2 linked regions of the Homo sapiens genome follow. The protein of the gene in region 2 purifies or fractionates together with the protein of the main gene of each other region. This does not show direct contact. Each region holds a gene or a part of one and is shown on either strand. Other genes may lie near its edges.

Region 1 (3,654 bases), on a different chromosome or scaffold from region 2:
GTGGGGAAATCAAGCAGCTGTGACATGAAGTGAATGAAGTCCACTTGAAGCTGTGGAAGATGGTTCATCCTTTTCCCCAGTTGAGGATCCAGATTTATAACTTCTAGAAAGCCATTTCCAGAAGGTTCTATGTGGCACACCCCTAGGAAAGGCACTAAATGCATGCAAAGGATTTATAAACTTAGGAAAGTAGATGGGTGGAGTCCAGAAAACTGGTTCTGGGTTAATATCTCTACATCTGTCTTGATGACTCATTTCTCCTAACTCCCATTTAGTGCAGGGTAAATGGTTTGAGATGAGAGTTTTTCAATGAAAGGGAAATTTTCTTTCAGTTTACAGATGTATTAGAAGTCCTGACTTTCAAGTGTAATTTGCTTTGGAGGAGGAAAAAATAGTGAAAGAATCATTTTATCTCAATTCTAAGCTACTATCCATTTACTAATAGCTTTTTGGCAAGGAAATAACTGTCACCTTAGGTAAAAACAGTCTTGTTAGATGCAGCCCAATTTCAGGAACATTAAAATGTAAAAAAGTACGTCTCAGAATTGAGGGAGCATGGGAACAAAGACGAGACTTTCTCAGTATTTCTCATTTTTCCTGCAAGGAAAGCCTCGCCTTAGGCATCTCAAGTAAAGTGGCTAAGGTGTAAACTCTCTGGGCAAGATTTCTGTCCTGACTGGGACAGTGTTCTTGGAGGAGACATGAGAGAGTCAGAAACTTCTGCCAGTCATAGAGAGTGATGATTTTGCAGAAGGCCACTGGGTTATTGGCCTACATTTACCACCGACTTCCTTTATGGCCTTTTCTCCACTTCTCCGGACTCAGCTCCTCTGTCTGTACCACGTCGGGGGTTGGGACCAATCATTGTATCTCAAACTTAAGAATCAACTCACATTTGTACTATTACTCATGTAACATTTTTTTAAGTCACCTTTTCTTAAAAGCAAGACTTAGCCTCCTCCAAAGAAATAATATGCATGAAATTTCAACTCTGATATGCTAGGTTTTTCCCTAACATTAATCACATAATTATCAATGTAACAAACATGCACCCACATACCACCTGAAATCATTTTGTGAACCACCAGGAGCATGTGTATCAAACTTTGGGACCCTGAGTAACTGATATGACAGAAGATTTATGCCCTTAGGGGCATCAAAGATGGTGGTTCTTCACATATTAGAGTCAGCAGGGCTGCCCATAACACACACAGGAATAATTTTTGTCATGGTTTAAGGAGTTCATAGGCCCCTTTGCAGTTTATCTGCGAACTCCAAATAAAAGCCCCTACACTAGTCCAACACCCTTAGCATATAGATGTACAAACTGGGATCCAGAGTAGGATGAGTTTGCCAGAGAAGAAAGAGCAGAGGGCAGCCATCCTCTCCTCCATCCCCTGCAAAGGATGCATTAGAGCAAACACCCAAGACTCCTGGACGGGAACAGGAGGGGAAAGCCCTAGAGATTAGGCCTCAGGGAGCAATAACCACCACGATGTTTCACAAATTAACTGTTCTTTACCAGGTACTGAACTAGGTATTTTACATGTGTGATCTTTCAGCCCCAGTACTGGCAATATTTCTTAGTTAGTGGCACATAGAAGTCAGTCTGTTTTCCTGCTGACACTAAAAACTACTTGAAGGCTGATTTGCTACCTTGCAACAGTTGGTTCGATTCTAAGGGCCCTATACTACTTTACCCCACAAGGCCTGCTGCTTGGTAAGAGCCATCAGATTACAACTGGAGGGTGTCAGTTGAATGAAGGAAAATGGAAGCCACGCCATCCCTGGCTTTTACAAAAACCATCCTTGCGCAACATTCAGTTCCTGACGTTAAAAACAAGTAATGCAAAAAGCTGAACTTTGGTAGACATTCGTACTCTTCTGTCAGGAGGAGGAAGATTAGTTAGAAAAAACAAAAAAGGAAGATACTAGCCAGCATCAAGAAGTGGGATATATAAAGGCAGATGGGCAGTGGGAATCAAGTTGCTTCTTAACTCCTTCAAGTTTGGCTCCTGCCTTTACTCTTCCATTGAAAAAAAAGCACCTTTAAACCTCTCATTGATCTTGTAATTAATTCAACCAAATCAACTTCTATTAGGCAACCAGCATATATAAGATGGAACAATTGCAAGGTGGAATAAAGATGAAGCTAAAATTCTGCTAGCTCAGTGGCCCAATGAAATAAGTCAGCTATCTCCACTAAACTTCCTTTGAATATTCTAGGGTCCATTATAATAAAAGGTACACACTCAAATGCCCAATTTCTAAGGACTTGAAAAGCCATAATTTCCCTCCCTTCAAGCCTACAGAGCAACTGCCTAAAGCTTCCCTCCCCAGACAACCCCAGGCCTCATTTCTTTTTCAGTCCCTTTGCTAGCTGCCTGCAGGGCTCAAGAAAGCCCTGGTAGGCCTCATAATGAGGATTTAGGGATGACACTATAGTCCACAGCCTGAATGGTGGAACCCTTACTAATTTTCCCTCTTCCGTGATGAATGTGTGGATGAAGCCGGTGTGTTTTTAATAATGCCACCCCACTTCCAAAACAAATCCCCTGACACAGTCTTTGGACATACCACCCTGAATGCACCCGATCTCATCTGATCTTGGAAGTGAAATGGAGTCAGGCCTGGTTAGTCTTTGGATGGGGGAAGTCTAGACACACCACTGAGAAACATTCACACTGCAACCTGATTCACTGTGCATCCAACATGCCTTCATCCACCTCTTCCCCCTGAACTTCTAAGTCAACTCTCAGGGACTGCTTTCCAAGGGAGCAACCAACCTGGTCAGTGGAAAAAGGATGAGACTGGGAGACAGGAAACGTGGGTCCTGCTCCTGGTAACCATGGAACTTAAGCTACCCACTCAGTCCCTATGTCAGTGTCATCACCTGTAAAATGGCCAGAAAGACATCTATCCTAGCTCAGAGAATTGTTATTGGGAGAACAAGAAATCCATTTACTTACAACTATTTTGATAGGTTTAAAGCACCATAAACTAATAATAGCAACAACAGTGATGGGTAATATACTATTGCTTTCCATGCCTCATCTCATTATCTCCTCTCCCAGACCCCATGGTGGCATTAGTATTTCCATTTTGCAAATGAGAAAATAGACTCAAGTTGTCAACCTAGCCAAGGGCACAAAGCCCGAGAGAGATGGAACCAGGACTCCAACTCAAGGTATCTGACTCTAAAGCCAGAGCTGTTAAAATACAGCTCTAACATACAATAGTTGCTAACATTTATTGAGCACTTATTATAAGCCAGGCTTTGTTCTACAAATTTCACATGTATTGACTTATTTACCCCTAAAACTCCAGATGCAGATACTATTGTTGTTCTCATTTTATAGATACAGAAACAGATGAATGACAACCAAATTTACACAGTTCACAAGTGACAAAGCCAGGCAGTTTTAGTTAAAGTTCTTATCCACTATCCCCATCATACATTATGTGTGTGTGTGTGTGTGTGTGTGTGTGTGTGTGTGTGTGTGTATGCATGTAGATGGAAGTTACTGATCAGAAAACAAGCCCCAGTAATGACCCATAAGCTCAATGAATTAAAGATTCATTGGTTGCCTGGGATGTGTCAGGCAGCCAGGTTCTAGACAAGGGGCTGGAGTTACTAAGATATTTAAACCACTG
Region 2 (3,654 bases):
TTAAATAACTTGCCCAAAGTCACACAGCTAATAAACGGTGAGGCCAACTTTACAGTCAGAAAAGAAAGCACTCATTTTTTTTTTTAAGAGACCATTCCACATCCTGTATTCTGACCTGAGGTGACACTGCTGTGGCCAAATTGAGTTCTTCCAGCCACACATCTCACCATGACTTGCCACCAAGAGTGAGGGTAGAAGATGCCTGTGGGTAAACAAGTCAACAAGTCAGGAGAAATCACACTCACCGTTGAAATATTAAGTGGCACTGGATTAATGTCTTTCTGAGGAAACACAGGGAGGAAATTCTAGTTGGACCAGGGAGTCAGGCCTAGCTATGGCAGCAACTTGGGGTGTGACTCCAGTCCATCTCAGAGTTTACAGAGATGCCTGCCTTTAGAATGCAAAGCGCCTGGTGTGTGTGTGTGTGTGTGTGTGTGTGTGTGTGTGTGCGTGTGTGTGTGTGTGTGTGTGTGTAAAGAGAACGATATCAAGATGCCTGCCTTTAGAATGTAAAGTGTCTGGTGTTTTTCTCTGTGTGTGTGTGTATGTGTTTATAAAGAGAACAATATCAAGGCCTTCTCAATACAAAAGCATCCCCCTGGCAATTACATTCCTGTGTTAGGATAAGTAAGGGAAGCAGACCTGCCAGTGTTTGCTTTGGGGCTTACCACAAGATACCATCCAGTCCCTGCCTGAAAATCATGTTCATCTGCCCCAACTAGCTTGACAGTTACCAGAATTCTCCATGTACATTGTGTTTATACAAACATCATTTTTCTCTTTCTAATCAGAAGTCTAATTTCAATGAAGCAAAATGGCTTTTAAAGATTTTTTGTTTCTGACTCAAACCAGTTCTCATATAGTCCTGAGACATGAACTGGCTTACTCTGATTATCCATGCTGGGCTGGTAACAAAATACCAAAAAGAAAATGGGTTAAATGTCTTTAAGATTCATGGATTTATTAATTACTGACTGTTTTGAAAGCTAGTATCCTAAATTTATAAAACAAATTTCAATAAGGCTTTCATCATGAATATTCCCTAAATATATTTAGTTTTATCATCCAAAAAATGCATAGGTAGAAGGTACATCATCATAGAACATCAATTAACAAAGTCCTTTTAAATGTCACTTGTAGGAAAAAAAGGTTGAACTAAATGAAATAAAGTTACATACATCCAATTGGATGAATCTCACAAATATATTCAGAGGGAAAAAAGTATAGGATGAAACCATTATATAAAGTTTAAACACATGCAAACACATTATATATTGTTTATGGATGTGCCCAACTGTATCAAAATGCCTAGGAACAATAAACACCAGATCTGAGATAGGTCCTACCCCTTGGGGAAAAGAATGGGTATACAAGATGCTTTCATTAAGCTGGGGGGAGGGGGAAAAATAAATGAATGTTTATTGTGAGACTATCTTTTTATATTTCTAAAGTATCTCAAACTTTTCAAAGGAAAAACAAGCCTAATACTAAAAGAATAAGTTAAAAGTTACTCTACTGAAGGGTAGGACAAGGAATGGGGAGGAAAAGAGGAAGGTGGAGATTGAGAGAGACAGAGTGGAGGTCTGTGTCTTGTAATGGATACTAAATCAACCCGACCTTGGAATGTCTATACTGTACTCATAATACAAATTAGCAATCAGTTTAAATTATAATAATGGCCCCAGAGGGGTCTTAAAATTTAACAAAATTTAAATCAGTCATCATACTAATGTAAAAAGAATATCCTAACTAGATCAAATGTACACACACTCTAGATAATCAAGATCGATTATCACTTCCCTAGCAGAAGACCACGGTTACACCCCTTTACAGAGACAGCTCATTACTGTGGTTCAGGGTTTTGGAGTGAAGACAAACCTAGGTTCACATTCCAGCTCCATCAATGACAAATTGTGATTTAGACAAGCTACTAATCTCTCTGAATTCACTGAGGTCAGGAGTTCAGGACCAGCCTGGCCAACATGGTGAAACTCCATCTCTACAAAAAATACAAAACGTAGCCAGGCCTGGTGGCACACACCTATAATACTAGCTACAGGGTGTGCAGCTGAGGCTGAGGCAGGAAACTTGCTTGAACCTGGGAGGCGGAGGTTGCAGTGAGCCAAGATCACACCACTGCACTCCAGCCTGGGCAACAGAGCAAGACTCTGTCTCAAAAAAAAAAAAAAAAAAAGTAACCCAGTAAGGCCAGACGCAGTGGCTCACACCTGTAATCCCAGGACTTTTGGAGGCCGAGGCAGCTGGATCACCTGATGTCAGGAGTTCGAGACCAGCCTGGCCAATGTGGTGAAACCCCATCTCTACAAAAAATACAAAAATTAGCCGGGTGTGGTGGCAGGCGCCTGTAATCCCAGCTACTTGGGAGGCTGAGGCGGGAGAATCGCTTGAACCTGGGAGGCGGAGGTTGCAGTGAACCAAGATCATGCCATTGCACTCCAGCCTGGGCAACAAAAGCGAAACTCCGTCAAAAAAAAAAAAAAAAGCCCAAGATATAAGGTGACAAACAGCTATTGAAGTCACAGAATTCAAAACAGCTTCTTTGGGAATTTGTCCAGAGCACTTTTGAGTATTCCACTGTAGAGAACAGGATTACCTAACAGCTCTTAGGAAAATCCCTCTTAGGGATGTCTCTGGTCGTCTTCTTTTATTGTGAATTTACCATAGCAAATACAAGCTGTTAGGATTTCCAGCATGTCAGACGCTAGAAACCCTAATTTTGAGTTCACGTCCTCAAAAAGTATCTCTGTAATTTGAAGTATTTGAAGGCTGCAGTCACTTATATTGTCATGTCAATACCTTGAGATGAACTCTGTCATCAACTCTTCCTTATCAGTCACTTGGAGGAAAGGCCTGCTGCTGACTGCCTGAACCTCGACTATAGATTGCTTACTAGTTTTGCAATGACCTTAGCAACACATTCTACTTTATCTTCAAATCTTTGTGAATCAAAAATAAATTCTAGAAAATATTTTCCCAAGATACCACTGAGCTCTGATTTGCCAATGTATTTTCTTTTCTTTTTTTTTTTTTTTTTGAGACAGAGTCTCGCTCTGTTGCCCAGGCTGGAGTGCAATGGCGTGATCTCAGCTCACTGCAACCTCCGTCTCCTGGATTCAAGCAACTCTCCTGCCTCGGCCTCCCGAGAAGCTAGGATTACAGGCGCCTGCCACCAGACCCGGCTAATTTTTTTTTGTATTTTTAGTAGAGATGGGGTTTCACCATGTTCTCCAGACTAGTCTTGAGCTCCTAACCTCAAGTGATCCACCCGCCTCGGCCTCCCAAAGTGCTAGGATTACAGACGTGAGCCACTGAGCCCAGCCACCAATGTGTTTTCAAGATTTTCCAGCATCCCGAACTACAATCAAAATTTGGAAGCCTTTCCAGGGTTTGACAATTTTGTCTCTCTTCTTGGTCACTGGTAATGGTGCTTTGGAGAAATATACTGTTAGGGGTAATAAACACTAAAAGGTTAGATACCTGGTCTAGGGTGCAGAACAGCTATTTTGAGGCAAGAACAGGGCCTTGATAATAAAATATATGCCTGTAATTTAGTTATGTCATCATAATTGTTAACCTTTGAGCACTTATACTAAATGCTTTACATGTATTAACAAATCCTACTTTTAATCCAAT

The links. Proteins that work in one complex are often made in the same cells at the same time.
Region 1: the proteins of ARHGAP10 (region 2) and PPP2R2B purify together in Homo sapiens (co-immunoprecipitation; one large-scale study listed by IntAct). This does not show direct contact.

The regions. Positions count from the first base shown.
Region 1 is NC_000005.10:146,585,110-146,588,763, reverse strand, and holds part of PPP2R2B (serine/threonine-protein phosphatase 2A 55 kDa regulatory subunit B beta isoform), read left to right. Parts: 3' UTR 1-3,654. UniProt on the Homo sapiens protein: The B regulatory subunit might modulate substrate selectivity and catalytic activity, and might also direct the localization of the catalytic enzyme to a particular subcellular compartment.
Region 2 is NC_000004.12:147,738,588-147,742,241, reverse strand, and holds part of ARHGAP10 (rho GTPase-activating protein 10), read right to left. Parts: intron 1-3,654. UniProt on the Homo sapiens protein: GTPase-activating protein that catalyzes the conversion of active GTP-bound Rho GTPases to their inactive GDP-bound form, thus suppressing various Rho GTPase-mediated cellular processes. Also converts Cdc42 to an inactive GDP-bound state.